Linked DNA regions of Homo sapiens: region 1 is linked to region 2. Evidence: fine-mapped expression QTL. A gene starts in region 2. The other region holds a variant in brackets. All regions are shown on one strand. Distances are from middle to middle. Region 1 holds the start of LYPD3 (LY6/PLAUR domain containing 3). Region 2 holds the start of ZNF112 (zinc finger protein 112).

Region 1 (9,390 bases), 890 kb after region 2:
TACAGGTGTGTGCCACCACACCCAGCTAATTTTTTGTATTTTTAGTAGAGACGGAGTTTCACCACATTGGCCAGTCTGGTCTCGAACTCTTGAGCTCAGGTGATCCACCCCCTTGGCCTCCCAAAGTGCTGGGATTACAGGTGTGAGCACCTGGCCAGAAAGGATTGATTTTAAGATTTGGGCTTGTGTGTGGTGGTCTTGGGAATGGTGCAAGGAAGTGGGACCTCGTTCTAGTTTGGATACTGTTAAACAGAGGAGGAGTAATGCTGTGGTTGGGCATTTGCATAAATCTCATTTATGAGGCAGGAGAAATAAAGTGAGGTTAAAGTTGTAACTTTAATATAATATAAGCAGTCATTTATATTAGCCAGGATATGGGGATGCTTAGTCATTCTGCGGTTTGCACAATGACCTTGTTTGTTTCTGTGTTCAGACATGGCTATGGATTGGTCTTGATTTTGTTTTTCTTTGTTTTTTGTTTTTTTGAGACAGGGTCTCACTCTGGTTGCCCAAGCTGGAGTGCAGTGTCGCAATCTCAGCTCACTGCAGCCTCAACCTCCCAGGCTCGGGTGATTCTCCCAGCTCAGCCTCTCAAGTAGCTGGGATTATAGGTGCACACCCCCACGCCCAGCTAATTTTTTGTATTTTCAGTAGAGACGAGGTTTCGCTGTGTTGCCCAGGCTATTGATTTGTTTCTTGATCCTTTACTGTCGCAGTGTGGCCTTGTCCAGGTTGGTGCTCTGTGAAATTATCTAGGCGCAGTTGAACTCCATGGCCTCACTATGTGTGTCAGGCCAACTCCCAGCTGTTAGGGGCTGTTTTTCTCTTTCTTCCATGGAAAACTACACGGCCCCCTGTTGGTTTCCTGGCCTTCTCTCTCACCCCTTCTAGAGTCATTTTCCTTTTTTACACAGAGTCCACAGTGACATTCTTTACCTTGTTTTTATTGAAGAATAACATACGTCCAGTGACAGGCCTGAGTCAGTGATTCTCAACGTATCTGTACACACATGCAGCTGTCACCTAGATGAAGATCGTGGGGGCTCCTCCCTGTTGCTCCTTCTGGGGCCATGCCCTCCCAAAGGTAACATGTGTTCTGATTTCTATCACCACTGGTTAGTTTTGTCTGTTCTGAAACTTCATATATATTCAGTTACACAGTATGTTTTGTTTGTTTGTTTAAGGCTTTCTAAACTCAACACCAAGTTTTTTCTTTTTTTAAAATAAAATGAGATGGGATCTCACTATGTTGCACAGCCTGGTCTCAAAACCCCTGGGTTCAAGTGATCCTCCCACCTTGGTGTCTCAAAGTGCTGGGATTACAGGTGTGAGCCACTGTGCCTGGCCCCAACACAAAGTTTTTGAGATATGTTGCTGCATATATCAGGTGTTGGATCTTTTCTATTGCTGTGTAGTATTCCATTGGCCGAACCAACCACTCTCTTTTGCCATTCACTTCTTTTTCTTTTTCCTTTTTTAAAATCATATATCCTACTCTCAGATCCATTTACTTTTTTTTAATTTTTAAATTTTTAAATTTTTTTTTTTGAGACAGGGTCTCACTCTGTTGCCCAGGCTGGAGTGCAGTGGCGTGATCTCAGCTCACTGCAACCTCCACCTCCTGGGCTCAAGTGATTCTCCTGCCCTACCCTTCCGAGTAGCTGGGACAGCAGGTGCACGCCACTGCACCTGGCTAATTTTTTTAAATTTATTATTTTTTTTTAATAGAGATGAGGTTTCGCCATGTTGCCCAGGCTGGTCTCAAACTCCTGATCTCAAGTGATCCACCCAGCTCGGCCTCCCAAATTGCTGGGATTACAGGCATGAGCCACCGCGCCCGGCCTCCATTTACTTCTTGATGGCTAGCTGCACTATTTCTCAGGTTGATCATATTAGGAAGCAAATCTATTATGTCCTCCAGCTCATTTAGACCCTCTTAAAGGTTCTCTACTATTCTCAAAATTAATCCAAATCTCTTGTCGGGGCCTCTGATGCCCTGAGTGTCTCGGCCTCTGCCTGACTCTTTCATCTCAGTTCCTGCCCTTCTCTCATGGACTTCTGAGCTCAGGAGCACTGCTCTCCTTTCCATGTTTGAATGGTCCATCCTACCTCCTACCTCCAGGTGCTCCCACGTGCTGTTCCCTCTGCTTGTAAAGGGCTGTGTCCCTCTCTTGACCTGCTCTAGCTGGCTACATCCTGCATGCCCTTGAGGTTGCATCTCAGATAACCTCAAGGAAGCCCTCACCGACCAGCCCCCACTTCTAGACTGCACATCTCCTTGTATCACTACACTTTTTCCTTCAGTGTCTTAGTCTCTTTGGTAAACACCAATTTGTACGATTATTTGATTAGCATCTGTCTCCCCCATCAGACTGTGAGCTCTGCCAGGACAGGCACTGGTTCTGTCTTCATCTCCAGCATTACCTAGACCAAAGCCGGGCACACTGTAGATGCTCATTTAACAGTTACCGAACACTGAATGTCGAGTAGCCCCAGCCTGTCTTTAAGCCCCACTACTCTCCCACTCCAAACACACACAGACTTTCTCCCGCGAGCTGTCAGGGAACCTCAGCTCCCACCCTTTCCCTCCTTGGCAACTTCACAGGGCAGGGACCGCTCTCCCTTGGATGACGCGCCTAGGGGCGGGGCCCCGCCCCACAGCCGACGCTGAGTTGGCCCGGTTGGGCAAGGCTGGGGTTGCCTGGGGCGAGGTTACTCATCCTGGGCTCAGGTAAGAGGGCCCGAGCTCGGAGGCGGCACATCCAGGGGGGACGCCAAGGGAGCAGGACGGAGCCATGGACCCCGCCAGGAAAGCAGGTGCCCAGGCCATGATCTGGACTGCAGGCTGGCTGCTGCTGCTGCTGCTTCGCGGAGGTGGGTCTGCTGCCCGGAGAGGTGGAGGGGGTAGAGTGGGGGCTCTTAGGGAGGAGGCTCCTCTGGCCCCGTACAGAGAAGGCTGTGGGAAGGATCCCCACATAAGCAGAGGGCACTGTGGGCAAAGTTCCCCCATCCTAAGCAAGGGAGGCAGAGGGAAGGGTCCTCCACCATGGGCCGTAGGAAGGGTTCCCCACCACGGACAAGGGGAGCTGTGGGCAAAATTTTCCTATCCTGAAGCTGCAGAAAGAAGTCCCCTGTTCCTAGGCCGGGCGCGGTGGTTCATGCCTGTAATCTCAGCACTTTGGGAGGCCGAGGCAGGCGGATCATGAGGTCAAACGATCGAGACCAGCCTGGCCAACATGGTGAAACCCTGTCTCTACTAAAAATACAAAAATTAGCTGGGCGCGGTAGCGCGAGCCTGTAGTCCCAGCTACTCGGGAGGCTGAGGCAGGAGAATCGTTTGAATCCAGGAGGGGAGGTTGCAGTGAGCCGAGATTGCGCCACTGCACTCCAGCCTGGCGACAGAGCGAGACTCCGTCTCAAAAAAAAAAAAAAGAAAAAAAGAAAAAAAGAAAAAAGTGTTCCCTGTCCTGGGCAGAGAAGCTGTGGGTAGTGTTCTCTCATTTGAGCAGAAGGGGGCTGTGGGAAGGGATCCCTCACTGAGCACAGTCTACTGTGGGAAAAGTTCTCCCACACACTGTGGGAAAAGTTCTCTCATTCTGAGCAGAAAACCGTGAGGAGGTATCCTTCCTACCCCGGGATGAGGGGCTTCATGGCGGGGATCGCCTACAGTGGGCATACAGGGCTGTCGGAAGGATGTGCCCACAGTTGGCATAGTGGGTGTGAAGGAAAAGGGTCCAGTGATTCCCGTGCTTCCAGATTTGTGGAAAGCTTTTCCCTACT[C/T]CTGCCCTGGAAAAGTGTGTGCAATAAGACTGTCTAATCCCGGGACAGAGGGCATGGGAAGGACTATTTCTCCTTGGGGGTGGACGCTTTAGCAAGGAGGGCTCAGGTCTATTCGGCTCCGCTCCCCCAGGAGCGCAGGCCCTGGAGTGCTACAGCTGCGTGCAGAAAGCAGATGACGGATGCTCCCCGAACAAGATGAAGACAGTGAAGTGCGCGCCGGGCGTGGACGTCTGCACCGAGGCCGTGGGGGCGGTGGAGACCAGTGAGTGGGGACCCCCGGGCCACGCACACCACTGCAGGCTCCTCCGGCCCAGCCCCGCCTCCTTATAGTCCTTTCTGGATCTGGCCACGCCCCTTTAACGCGGCCCCACCCCTCCCTTTCAGCCTGGCCGGGACCCTACGACACAGCCTTGCAGGCCAGGCCTTCTCTATTAACAATTACAAGCGCGAGGAGCAGAGAGTTGAGAACTGGGTGGGGCGGACGGGGAGAGCTCGGGTTTGGAACGAGGTCACGTCCTATGCACTTTTTCTGCTCCACCAATGAGACCTCCCCATCCCTGCCTGTCAACCAGGCTGTCTCCTCCGACTCAGCTCTTTGAGGTTCCGCCCCCGTTCCGTGACCCCGCTCCTCCCTGCTTCGGTCGTTCTTTCCGCTCTGAGCGGCTCTTTGGGGGCGTCCATCCGCCAATTCCTGCCTGTCGGTCCTGTGGTGTTGGCCTATTTGAGGCCCCGCCCCTCCCAGACCCTACCCAACTCTGGGCCACGCCCCATCTGAGACCACGCCCACAGCTAATCCCGCCCTTGTCCCTCTCCCTAGTCCACGGACAATTCTCGCTGGCAGTGCGGGGTTGCGGTTCGGGACTCCCCGGCAAGAATGACCGCGGCCTGGATCTTCACGGGCTTCTGGCGTTCATCCAGCTGCAGCAATGCGCTCAGGATCGCTGCAACGCCAAGCTCAACCTCACCTCGCGGGCGCTCGACCCGGCAGGTCCGTGGGGGCCGGGCCGTAGCTGCGGGGGCGGAGCCACATTCGGGCCTGCCAAGATAGAGGTGGAGCCGTGGCAGAGGCGGGAGTACTCGACCTGGGCTGGGGGTGGGGTCACACTCTGGGGCGGGGCCAAGAGGCAGCAGGAGGGACTTTCTGGCTGTAGGCGCCGCGAGGTTGCGCGCTGGGGCGGGGCTACTAGTAGGCGGGGTCATCGATAGTGCCGGGGCCAGGCCTTAGGGGCGGGGCTAGAGGACGAGCTGCGGTTCCCGAACCCTTTCGACACCTTTTCTTCCTCTCGGCTCCCCTCGCAGGTAATGAGAGTGCATACCCGCCCAACGGCGTGGAGTGCTACAGCTGTGTGGGCCTGAGCCGGGAGGCGTGCCAGGGTACATCGCCGCCGGTCGTGAGCTGCTACAACGCCAGCGATCATGTCTACAAGGGCTGCTTCGACGGCAACGTCACCTTGACGGCAGGTGAGGGAGCCCCGGAGCACGGGACCTACGGGAGTTGTGGTAGCCCTTCTGAAGCACCCTGGGCGGTAGGGAGCCCTTTACCCAAAGCGTTTCCTTAACCTGCGACGCATTCTGGGAATCGTGGGGCCTAGGTGCTTGTATCGTAGGGCATCATGGAAAATGCAGTCCCTTCCCCCAACATATTAATAGTGTGGGGATAGTGATGCTTTGTCCCAGAGTGTTTTGGAGGGAAATGCATTTCCATAGAGGGCTGCCAGGTACTTAAGAGGTATTTAAGCCTCTAAGCTTCTGCCCAGGCACTGCGGGGAATCTCTAGTTCTTAGCCCTTAAAACTCAAGGGGTCCCCCGCCTGTCCCAGACTATTGAGAAATGTAACCATGGAAAATGAAGTTCTTCAAATCCCATCCCCTGCCAGTTATGCTATGGAAGATGTAGTTCTTTTTTATTTTATTATTACTATTTTTTTTTAAAGACAGCATCTTGCTCTATCGCCTAGCCTGGAGTGTAGTGGCGCAATCATAGCTCACTGCAGCCTCTACCTCTTGGGCTCAAGCAGTCCTCCCGCCTCAGCCTCCCAAGTAGCTGGGACTACAGGGTGCACCGCCACGACTGGTTCCTTTTATTTTTGGTAACAGTGGGGTCTTGCCATGTTACCCAGGCTGGTATTGAACTCTTGGGCTAAGAGATCCCCCTGCCTAGGTCTCCCAGAGTGCTGGGATTACAGCCGTGAACCACTGAGCCTGGTGTGGAGATGTAACTCTGACTCTAAGAGTAAATTCTGATGGGGAGGTAAAAGCCAGGGTGAAGGCTAAGGGGATAATGGTGAGAGGGTTGTAGAGGAAGTTTGTTCTGCACTGTGGTCTTGTGAGAGGTCTTGTATCTCAGTCTAAGCCTTTGTTTTAAACCCTACTTTTGGTTCAGCCTACACACATTTCCATTCAAAGCACAATGGAAAATGTTAATCCACCATGTGCCAAAGACAGTGAGTCTGTCTGTTTCTCATAGTAGGACCTGAGTTGAGATTTTGGGATTAATGGATGCAGAGACTTTCTGTCTCATTTTGGGGGTTCTCTGTTCTTTTTTTTTTTTGCAAGACAGAGTCTCACTCTGTTGCCCAGTGATCCACCTGCCTCGGCTTCCCAAAGTGCTGGGATTACAGGCGTGAGCCACCACGCCCGGTCAGGTTCTCTGTTCTTGTCTGATGCCTCTAAGTTTTGTTCTGGCCATGTCAACCTCTCTCCCTCCAGCCACTGACCTATCTGTGTCTCCTTCCTGCAGCTAATGTGACTGTGTCCTTGCCTGTCCGGGGCTGTGTCCAGGATGAATTCTGCACTCGGGATGGAGTAACAGGCCCAGGGTTCACGCTCAGTGGCTCCTGTTGCCAGGGGTCCCGCTGTAACTCTGACCTCCGCAACAAGACCTACTTCTCCCCTCGAATCCCACCCCTTGTCCGGCTGCCCCCTCCAGAGCCCACGACTGTGGCCTCAACCACATCTGTCACCACTTCTACCTCGGCCCCAGTGAGACCCACATCCACCACCAAACCCATGCCAGCGCCAACCAGTCAGACTCCGAGACAGGGAGTAGAACACGAGGCCTCCCGGGATGAGGAGCCCAGGTTGACTGGAGGCGCCGCTGGCCACCAGGACCGCAGCAATTCAGGGCAGTATCCTGCAAAAGGGGGGCCCCAGCAGCCCCATAATAAAGGCTGTGTGGCTCCCACAGCTGGATTGGCAGCCCTTCTGTTGGCCGTGGCTGCTGGTGTCCTACTGTGAGCTTCTCCACCTGGAAATTTCCCTCTCACCTACTTCTCTGGCCCTGGGTACCCCTCTTCTCATCACTTCCTGTTCCCACCACTGGACTGGGCTGGCCCAGCCCCTGTTTTTCCAACATTCCCCAGTATCCCCAGCTTCTGCTGCGCTGGTTTGCGGCTTTGGGAAATAAAATACCGTTGTATATATTCTGCCAGGGGTGTTCTAGCTTTTTGAGGACAGCTCCTGTATCCTTCTCATCCTTGTCTCTCCGCTTGTCCTCTTGTGATGTTAGGACAGAGTGAGAGAAGTCAGCTGTCACGGGGAAGGTGAGAGAGAGGATGCTAAGCTTCCTACTCACTTTCTCCTAGCCAGCCTGGACTTTGGAGCGTGGGGTGGGTGGGACAATGGCTCCCCACTCTAAGCACTGCCTCCCCTACTCCCCGCATCTTTGGGGAATCGGTTCCCCATATGTCTTCCTTACTAGACTGTGAGCTCCTCGAGGGCAGGGACCGTGCCTTATGTCTGTGTGTGATCAGTTTCTGGCACATAAATGCCTCAATAAAGATTTAATTACTTTGTATAGTGCTTTAAAGGAGTCACTTCCACCTTGTTTCTCGCAATAACCGCTCTAGCTGAGCTAGGGTGGGCATCATAAAGCCTTTAACGGGAGAGATATGGGACCTAGAGCCGCAGTCCTGGGGGAAGTCACGGTTGAACTTTAATCTCCTGGGTCTATCCTGCATGTGGGTGGTCCCACTGGTGAGGGGGAGACCGGGCGAAACCATTAAGCAGCATGGAGGGGCGAATGGGGCTTTTAGCAATGCCAGGGAATAGAGAGCTTTGTCTAATGAGTTTATGTACCCTCCCTAGGCTCCACCCGCCTTGTCATCCAGCCAGCCGTCTGCATTGTTTTAGAGACGGGGTCTCTGTTCACCCAAACTGGACTGCAGTGGCCCAATCATAGCTCACTGCAACCTCTAACTCCTGCCTCAGGCTCCCAAGTAGCTGGGACTACAGGCTTATCCCATCATACTTGGCTAATTTTATTTTTTGTAGAGATGAGGTCTTGCTATGATGCCCAGTCCTCCTGCCTTGGACTCCCAAAGTGTTGGGATTACAGGCAGGAGCCACTGCACCCGGCTTCATCTGGTTTACTAAGAGTCATTAAGCCTGGGTGCAGTGGCTCATGCCTGTAATGCCAGCACTTTGGGAGGCAGAGGCAGCTGGATCACCTGAGGTCTGGAGTCCGAGACCAGCCTGACCAACATGGAGAAACCCTGTCTCTACTAAAAATACAAAATTAGCTGGGCATGGTGGCACATGCCTGTAATCCCAGCTACTCGGGAGGCTGAGGCGGGAGAATCGCTTGAACCCAAGAGGTGGAGGTTGCGGTGAGCCGAGATCACGCCACTGCACTCCAGCGTGGGCAAAGAGTGAAACTCCGTCTCAAAAAAAAAAGTCATTAACTGGGCTTACCTACTGTGTCCCACTTGTCTGTAGGACCCGGGGGTGCTGCTGTTGGTCTTTGCTTGATGTTGGGGACCTGGGGCTTGAGCCCCACCTCCATCTCCTTCCAATCAGATGAAGGCCTGGCCCTAGAGGCACTGGAGGGGAAAAGCCTGGTTTGGGAATGAGAGAGTTCCTGGTAGGCTTTGCGACTGCTTGATGGGAGGAGGATCAGATGTGGGGAATAGTGAGATCATAACAGTATATTGCCAATATTGCTATTGATAGCCAATATTACTATTGATAATGGGGAGTAGTGTGAGGTAACAACAAAACAATAGCAAATAAGGAGAATAGCAACAAAATAGAACATCAATAAGAGTATGAGCTCTTATTCTGAAACACATATATTGCAATACATGTATAGAGGGAAACATCAGTGATGGTAAATGTAGTGTTGGGAGTATTAATGATTTTTCTTTTTTTTTTTTTTTGAAATGGAGTTTTGCTCTTGTTACCCAGGCTGGAGTGCAATGGCACAATCTCAGCTCGCCACAACCTCCCCTCCCAGGTTCAAGCGATTCTCCTGCCTCAGCCTCCCGAGTAGCTGGGATTACAGGCATGTGCCACCATGCTTGGCTAATTTTATATTTTTAGTAGAGATGGGGTTTCTCCATGTTGGTCAGGCTGGTCTCAAACTCCTGACCTCAGGTGATCCACCCACCTTGGCCTCCCAAAGTGCTGGGATTACAGGCGTGAGTCACCATGCCCGGCAGAGATTTTTAAATTTTAATTTAACTTTTATTTGTATTGTAGAGATTGGCGTCTCACTATGTTACCCAGGCTGGTCTCGAACTCCTGGGCTCAGATGATCCTCCTGCCTCTGTCTCTCAAGTGCTGGGATTACAGATGTGAGGCACCGTGCCCAGCTGTGTTAGTGATTAAAGAC
Region 2 (9,390 bases):
GGTATAGGTCAATTTCAGTTTTATTTCACAATACTCAATTTAACAGCAACATGTATTGAATATTTTCCCTGTTCCCATGTTGCTGCAGCGCCCCATTTGTTGCAGATCTGAAGTCAACATGAGCATGCATATAAAATTCAAAAGATCTACACATAAAATATTAAAATTAATTAGATTAGTTGGCAAGATTGCAGGATAAAGGAGCAAATGTGGTATTTAGTAGAAATGATTGGGGTGGACATCATTATTTTGTTCCCCATCATAGAGGAAATGTTTTCAATATTTCACTATTCCTTTTGATATTTGTTGCCATTTTTGTAGATCTTTACTATTGCTTAGTTGCCTAAATTTTCTTATGATAAATGGGTGATTAATCAAACTTTTTTTTTCTCTGATACCTAGGTTGCCCTTTTATATATCATTGGCAACATTTTGTTTAGCATTTTTGAAAGTATATTTATGACGAGATAGACCTGTCATTTTCTTTTTCTTTCTTTTTTCTTTTCTTTTTTTTTTTCTTGAGATGGAGTCTCCTCTGTCACCCAGGCTGGAGTGCAGTGGCACGATCTCAGCTCACTGCAATCTCCATCTCCCAGGTTCAAGCGATTCTCCCACCTCAGCCTCCCAAATAACTGGGAATACAGGCACGTGCCACCATGCCCGGCTTTTTTTTTGTATTTTTAGTAGAAACGGGGTTTCACTGTGTTAGCCAGAATGGTCTGGATCTCCTGATCTCATGATCTGCTTGCCTTAGCCCCACAAAGTGCTGGGATTACAGGCATGAGCCACCGTGCCTGGCCAGACCTGTCATTTTCCATTCTAATGAAGCCTCTCACAAATTTTGTCAGTGTTATTACAGTGGCCTCATAAAGTTAGTTGGAAAGTGTTTCCTATTTTGTTATTCTCAGGAATAATTTTGAGATGAACATGGTTTCTTCTTTAAATATTTGGTAGAATTCACTGATGACACCAAATTTCAATGCCACAGTCTTTTATCTATGGATTACTTAAAAGTGGTTTGATTAATTTCTAAACAAGTTTGTAATTTAGGGTCCACTGAGAAGATAGAAACCTTATCAATTATTTGAAAAGAAAAATTAGCATATTGTAGAGTTGGTAGCTAGATTTCTGAAAGAGCAGAAAAAGAACTGTAGGCCACATGCAGTGGCTCACGCCTGTAATGCCAGCACTTTGGGAGGCTGAGGCGGGTGGATCACGAGGTCAGGAGTTCAACACCAGCCTGGCCAATGTGGTGAAACCCCATCTCTACTGATAATACAAAAATTAGCTGGGCGTGGTGGCGCATGCCTGTAATCCCAGCTACTCGGGAGGCTGGGGCAGGAGAATTGCTTGAAGCCGAGAGGCAGAGGTTGCAGTGAACCGAGATGGCACCACTGCACTTCAGCCCGGGGAACAGAGCGAGACTCTCAAAAAAAAAAAAAAAAAAAAAAAAAAAAAAGAACTCTAATATATGATGGAAGCAGCAACTGCAGGAAATAGCAACTGCAGCAAGCAGCAACCACCTGAGGTCTGAGGAAACAAAGTGAAGAGACCAGAATTACTAAAACTTAGAAGCTTGAAGGAAGGTCATGCTCACCTGAAACTCAGACCTCTGAGGAGAGGTCAATGTTGGGCTGGTTCTGCTGTCTCTGAGCTCAAAAGCAGGGCCCTGCAGTGTTAGGACTTAGACATCTAAGGATCAGTCTTTGGGAAGTTGTTTAATAATGTTTACAAAGAGCCATGATGAAATAGGTTATTCAAGTGTTAGAAAAACTGAAAATTAGGCAGTTGCTACAAGAAAAAGTACTGCTGGTTGGCAGGCACAGGATATAGTATATCTCCCTGCCCCCACCACCCCTATACGCTTCTGCTAATAATTGCCCAACACAGAACCAGATTGGGGGTGTGGAGGTCGGGAAAGATTGGCTGCAGATTCCCCCATTCCAGCCCCATAAAGCAGAGTGAAGAATGGTGGGTTTGGAGATGAGACAATATTTATTAAATGCACACATGAATCATTTAGTTGTATTTTTATTGATTTCTAGCCAAATTTCATTGTATTCAAAAGCATATTTAGTATTTCAGTATTTTGAAATCCCGTATCATTTTGCTAATTTGTGCAAATCTTATGTGCACTTGAAAAGATGCGAATTTTAGTTTTTGCTAGAATCTTTTGTTCCCCCAGCTTCATATAGGTGTCAAAAGTGCTGCAGAGCTTCTAGGCTTTTCAGATCCTAAACTAGACCATCATCCCCAGGAGAAAAGTAGCCCCAAATGCATGACTCTCCCAAGTGTTTCTGAATTTTGGCCCACCATTTCTCCATTATCTTGTCTTTTGATGCCTTTTGACATTTAAAAAGTTTGCTCATCTTTCCTCTGCCAGATGTTTGTTCCAAATCACTCATTTTATTATTACTGGAAGTGGAAGTACACAAAGTATTATTCTGTCCCTTTTATTTTTAAAATTTCCTTTCATTTTATAAAAAAAAATCCCCTATTATCAGATTGATCCTCTTTAATATGTAAACCGTATGTATTTTCAGAAACATTTCCTTGGAAAGGAGTTGTTAAATAAAGAATCAAATAGTCTCATCTCTTAATAGTGTCTTTTTTTTTTTCTTTTGAGACGGAGTCTCGCTCTGTTGCCCAGGCTGGAGTGCAGTGGTGCGATCTCGGCTCACTGCAAGCTCCGCCTCCCGGGTTCACGCCATTCTCCTGCCTCAGCCTCCCGAGTAGCTGGGACTACAGGTGCCCGCCACCACGCCCGGCTAATTTTTTGTATTTTTTGTAGAGACGGGGTTTCACCATGTTAGCCAGGATGGTCTCGATCTCCTGACCCCGTGAGCATTTTCACAGATTGGTCGTTATGTCTTTTTATTTTCCTCTTCCTTTTCTGGATTGAGTCAACCCATTCACCGTCCTCCCTGAATCATCCTGTCCTCCATAAGACAACTTACAATATTTGCTATATCAAGAGCAGGGTGAAAATAGGTGATAGATTTTTCTCAAAGAAGAAAAAAATTTCGAGGTTTTACAAGAGACTTATCCCTTCCCATAATAATAACATTTTGTCTGTATCAGTACAGCCCTTCTATTTGCCTTATGACTTGCATTTCATCATCAGTAGTTAAAGCAGAGGAAACGTGGGAACCATTTACTGTTTCTGCTTATGGCCTCATCAACGGTTGCATCTGTTTTTTTGTGGATTCTTGGCATCCACGTTCTTGTGGATCTTGCAACAAACACATTATGGTAGGTAGCAGCAGCACTATCAGTTTCAGACGCGTCCACACCAAAATGGAATAAAAAGGTAATCGAGTCAAAGAAAGGTTGAGATCCTGTATTCCTTAAATTCGGTGTCCAGTACAAATCAGCCCAATTTCCTTTAAGTACCTGCATTTTTAGCGCACACATCGCTTCCATTCTGTAATTCTTTTCTTTTTTCTTCCTGTATTGCAAGCTTCTCTGTTCTCTCCTTTATGGGATATTTTCTTGGTAAGTAGGTAGGTAGGTAGGTAAAGTCCGCTTTGGTTGAGTTTATTTGGGTTTGTGTCGCGTTTGAAGAAAAATAAATTCAAACTCTAGGGGGAAGGCAGTAGAACTGGACTAGCAGTATAAAATTGGATGGCTAACCAAAAGAGAATAGTGACTATACAAATACTGACTATCCAAACGAGAAAGAGACGACTTAAGGGAAAGTGCTACCCTGCAAGAAATTCCGGGAATTGTCCAGAAGATCCACAGGGTCAGAGACACACGCGCCAGGAAAGGCGCCTTTCATGCACGGTCCGCTGGGTAAAACAGAGAAATATATATACGAGCTCTCTGTCTTTGGAAGCATTTCGGTTCCAGGAAGGGGGAGTTAAGGAATTCCTTTGGGACCGGCACATGTGAAATATCATCCAGGCTCTCAGCTTGGCACCCGGTACTTGCGTCCTAGGCAGGCAGATAAGTGGAGAGTTTTTCTAGGAATTCTGGGAAATGTAGTTTGGGAGCCCCGTGTAGTCGGGTAACTTCCGCTCTAGGAGGCTGAGGCCGTCTCCCTGATCCCGTCGGGAATTCTGGGAAGCGTAGTCCAGGAGGTCTCGGTAGGCAGAGCCACTTCCGCCCCAGGTACGCTAGGCCGCGGCCTTCGTTCCTCCCAGAAAGGTGAGCGCTCCCCGCCCTGCTTCCTGCTCCTTCCGTCCATACTGATGTTCGTTTTGTTGGGGTCCAGTAGCAACCGGGCAGTAGCTCTAGGGGAGGATAATCCACTTGCGGCGAAGGGCGGGATTTGTGTTATCTTTGAATGAGCCTTCTCCAGTGTGGGGCAGCTGGCGCATCCCCACTTAGCGCCGGGGGTCCAAGATCCTACATCGCAGGGACTGGGGATCTCCTGGGTTCTGTACTTCCCCAGCCCTTTCCCCTGACCATCAACCAGCTCTGCCACTTCCTAGCAGTATAATAACAGGCGAGTATCTTAATCTCTCTGCCTATGTTTCTTTTTCTTTAAAATGGTACTAGTATCTATCTAATGGAGTTCTTTTGAGAGTTAAATAAAAAGACTTGGAACAGAGCCTGACAGGTGGTAGAAGATGGGTCTCTTGTTATTAGCACTTTTTAATTTTCTGAGAAGGACTCAGTTCCCTGAAAGCTTCTGTGAACCCAGGATGGGGTCAGAGCTCCAGCTGCAGAGTATCCCTGGCCCTTTTCTGATCACTGAGAGATTTTTCTTTAGGACAGGATCACTCCTGGCTGTCTGGGTAGTCCATTGTAATTCATGCAGGAGTTCTGATTTCCCCCATCCTCCTTTCCTTCTTTAGCCTTGACTTCTTGAAAAAGGCTGCAGGGAGAAGGAGGGAATGACCCTTTGGCACTTGGCAGCGGAGTCTCACCTGAGTAGTACTTATCATCCTTTCTTTTCAGGGAAGACGATATTTCCATCATTCACTGGCAAATTCTGCTCGAAGATGCGCTGATATTTGTTCAATAAATGCAGAAACGGATGAGGGAGTACTTGGGCATGAGTAATAAAGATAGTATTTAAACATTTAGTGCTGATCATTCTAAGAGTTTGATATGAATTAACATCTTTAATCCTCACAAGAGCCCTTTGAGCCTGGGTTGGGTACCACCATTCCCATTTTAAAGATAAGCAAACAGACATAGAGCATAGGTGGTTTATCTTTAGGTCACCCAGGTGGTAAGAGCCTGAGCTGGGATTTGAATTCAAATAGTTTCCATCCATTGCCTTAGTTCTTGATGTGTTTAGTATCAGCTTCAGAACACATATTTGGATTTTACTAGAGGACCGTGAAAGCAAGGTTAATAAGCTTTGAATTTTTGATTTTTTAAAATTATCTGTAATTTAATTTTATTTGAAATATTTATAGTTCATATTCTGATTATATAAATTATTGCATATTGTAAAAGATTAAGAAAGTATAGAAAGTGTAAAAGAAAAAAATTATGCTAACCACAAGATATAACAGTAACAATATTAATATTTCAATGTTTTCCTCTTCCAGTAGACTTCTTTTTGGATTTTCACCCATGTTTAACCAAATAGGCTTCATAGCTTTTATTTTTCCCTTAAGTTTTTACTATGGAAATTTGTAAGCATAGCCAAATGTAATATGACTAAAATAATTCTGTGGAAGCGTCACCCAGCTTCAACCTTTGTTAACATTTGCCAGTCTTGTATCAACTCCCTGTCCCTTTTTTTTTTGTTTCAGTATTTTAAAGCAAATCTCTAACATCGACTTAGTATAATATCGTTTGATTGATTGTCATAATTGCCAAACGTTGATGATCATAAATTGCTTATATCCAAGACTTTGAAAGGGAAATGCCAGCAGCTACTCTAAGGTTTTCATTCGTTGAAGCTTACAGAATGGTCCTTACTTGAGGAAGCTAGGGGATGCAAGAGAATTGTACCTTGGAGAAGGATGGTGATGAATTTTGTGTTCCAGTATAGAGTTTGCCTTGCCTAAGTCTTATAGCTCTTTGTTTCTTATTTCTCTTTATCTAAATCCATACACTGAAAGTTCTTCTATTTCTGGGACCATGTCATACTTTTCTCCATGTGCCCAGCACATCGTACAAGGTTGTTAAGGGTTTATGGTTAGAGTAGCTACTCAACAGACAGCTGGCATCAAGGATTTGCAGTGTGGAATTGGAATTAGGTATCAAAATAGAATAGAAATAACCCCTGGATATATTCCTTAATCTCACTTAATATTGGTAGGTTATATAATCCACCAACTATTTCAGAGTATTGAAGAGTTGAAGAGCAATGATTGGTTATGTTTTGATAATCTAAAAAAATTCCTAAGAAACAAATTGTTAGAAATGGTAACAACATTTATAGACCATGCCTTATAACTGAGGTTGTGTTTCCAGGTTTTTAAAACAGGTTTTTAAAAAATGTTTTTACAGTGACATTGACTATTTTGTTATTTTTGGTATACAATTCTATTACAACACAGGCATAGTTTGTATAACGACTACCGTAGTCAGAAAAAGAACAGTTCCATCACCCCAAAAACTCCCCTCATGTCTTCCCTCATAATTACCCCTCACCATACCTGTAACCACTGGCAACTACCATAACCACTAAAACGCTATAGTTTTGTCTTTTTGAGAATGTCGTATAAATGAACTGATGCTATATGTTAACATTTGAGACCGGATTCTTTTACTCAGCAAATTGCTCTTGACATTCATCAAAGTTGTTATACGTATCAATACTTCATTTCTGTTTACTTCTGGTTAACAGAAGTGTCCACTTTATGGATGTATCACAGTTTATCTATTCTCTGGTTGATAGACTTTTTCCTCCACTTTTTGGCATTTATGAATAGAGCTGATATAAACATTCATGTACAGTTTTTTTTGTGCTTATTTCTGTAGGGTACGAAGCCAGGAGTGTGGTTACTGGATCATATGGGGAATGTATGTTTAACTTTATAAGATGCCAAACTGTAGTATCTGTACCATTTTGCATTCTCACTAATGATGTAGAAAGTTCCAGTTTATTTACATCTTCATCAGCACTTAGTATTTTCCTTATTTTTTTTTATTTTAGCCATTCTAAGCATTGTGACTTTAATTTACATTTCCCTAATGGCTAATGGTGTTCAGCAGATATTTCTTTTTTTGTTATTGTTTCTTTGCCATCCTTATATCTTCTTTGCGGAAGTGTCTGTATGCATGCTTTGCCCAGTTTTACATTGGGTTATATTTTTCCTATTGTTGATTTTTGAGAGCTATTTATATATTCTGGATATAAGTCCTTTGTTGGATGTGTGATTTGCAAATATTCCTTCTCAGCCTGTAGCTTGTCTTTTCATTCTCTTAATAGTGTCTTTTGCAGAACAAAATTTCTAATTTTAATTACATCTAATTTATCAATGTTATCTTTTTTGGATTGTGCTTTTGATGTCATATCTAAGAAGTCTGCCTAGCCCCAGGTCGTGAAGATTTTCTCTTGTTCTAGAAGTTTTATGGTTTTACACTTAAATCTGTGATCCATTTTAACTTTTTTTATAATATGTGATGGTTAAGTTGGGTTTTATTTCTTTACATATGAATGACCAACCATCCCAACACCACTTGTTTGGGTTTATTTCTGTACCATGTTCTGCTAAATTGATCTATGTGTGTATCTCTTCACCAGTACCAAGATATCATATTTACTGTAGCTTGATAGTAAATCTTAAGACTGGATAGTTTGATTCTTCCAAATTTATTCTTTTTTTCCAAAATTGCTTTTAGCTATTCTGGTTCCTTTGCCTTTCCATATGCATTTTAGAATCAGCTTATTTATATCTACCAAAAATTCAGCTGGTATTTTCATTGACATTATGTAAAATCAGTAGATCCGTCTTTATCACATTGAGTTTTCCAGTTCATTGATATAACATGTCCCTTCATTTAAGTGTTCTTTAATTTCTTGCATTAGTGTTTCATGATTTTCTGCATACAGATCTATACATGTTTTGTTTAGACATATGCCCGAGTATAATATATAATTTATTCTTCTAGAGCTATTTTAAATCATATTGTTTTAAAATTTTGGTTTCCAGTTGTACATTGTTAGTGTATAGAAATACACCTGATTTTTGTGCATTGACCTTGTATTCTCTGACTTTGCTATACTCACTAGAAATTTTTGTTTTTTGGTAGATTCCTTGGGATTTTCCACAGAGACACATGTTGTGTATTAATAGGGTCAGTTTTATTTCTTCCTTTCTAATCTGTATGCTTTTTATTTCTTTTCCTTGCCTCACTACACTGGCTGATTTTCAGTACAGTGTTGAATAGTTATGTCAAGAGTACACATCTCTGCCTTGTTCCTGATCATAGGGGAAAGCATTTTTATAAGTTCCATTATATTTTTAGTCTGCAAAAGTTCTGTCATGAGTGGATGTTGTATTTTGTCAAATGCTTTTTCTGCTTCACTTTTACTGGAGCTGGTGATTGCTGTGCACTTAAAAGTTTGACAAGTACCTGTAGAACAGCCTTATTTAATTTTTTAACATTTATTTTTTAACTTATCTACTTATAGTAGAAATTTATTCTTTTTGGTGTACATTTCTGAGTTTTGACAATTGCATTGTCATGTAGACTTCACCACCACAATCAAGATTCACAACAGTTCCATCGCCCAGAAACATCCCCTTGTGGTACCTTTTTGTAGTCAAACTCTTCCCCAACTCTTAACCCCAGGAAACCCCTGGTTCACTCCCCAACCCCATTGCCTTTTCCATAACATCACGTGAACAAATCAATGCAGTATGTAGAATTTTGAGTGATTTTTTTCATTTTTCTCTTTGATTTCTCACATCAGTATTTTGTGTTTTGTGTCTTTGAAGGAATTAAACCATTTCATCTATCACTTTGAATTCATTAATGTTAATTCATTTATATTTCTAATGCCTGTTAAGTCCGTAGTGATATCCCTTCTTTCATTCTTGATTTTGGTAATTTGTGTCTTTTCTCTTTTGTTCTTCATCAGGAGTTTAATTTTTACTAATCTTTGCAAAGAACCGCCTGTGGGTTGAATTAATTTTGTCCAGGAGCCAGCAAACCTATTTTTTTAGGCCCAGATTGTAAATATTTTAGTTTTTCCAGTTAACTAGAAATATCAGTACTATTATTTAGGTATTTATATAATGAGAGGAAACTTTAATTGACAAAATTTAAGATATAATGATTGAGTACAACTTAATTGAAGTTCAAGGTTGCTATTCCTTGTCATCAAAATTGACTGTAAATGTTCATCTGTTAATGCTGATTTGTAATGAGATTTTATGTATTTTATCTTTGAAAAGAAATTTTTTAAACAAATAGGTCCTATGAAATACTGATACTAATCCATAAGCAAATGATTTTAATTGTGAATATCAA

What was found.
Region 1: its variant is fine-mapped to the expression of ZNF112 in atrial appendage (GTEx, PIP 0.90).

The regions. Positions count from the first base shown.
Region 1 is chr19:43,458,977-43,468,366 of GRCh38, reverse strand. It overlaps LYPD3 (LY6/PLAUR domain containing 3), which reads left to right and starts at 2,759. Exons shown (of 5, transcript NM_014400.3): 1 at 2,759-2,874; 2 at 3,911-4,042; 3 at 4,598-4,768; 4 at 5,080-5,241; 5 at 6,520-7,580. The coding sequence starts at 2,796. The coding sequence ends at 7,016. RefSeq lists enhancers at 4,007-4,538, 5,091-5,140, 5,171-5,230 and a silencer at 4,781-4,940. The variant C/T (reference allele first, on the strand shown) is at 3,781.
Region 2 is chr19:44,351,385-44,360,774 of GRCh38, reverse strand. It overlaps ZNF112 (zinc finger protein 112), which reads left to right and starts at 4,095. Exons shown (of 4, transcript NM_013380.4): 1 at 4,095-4,149. RefSeq lists an enhancer at 3,786-4,286.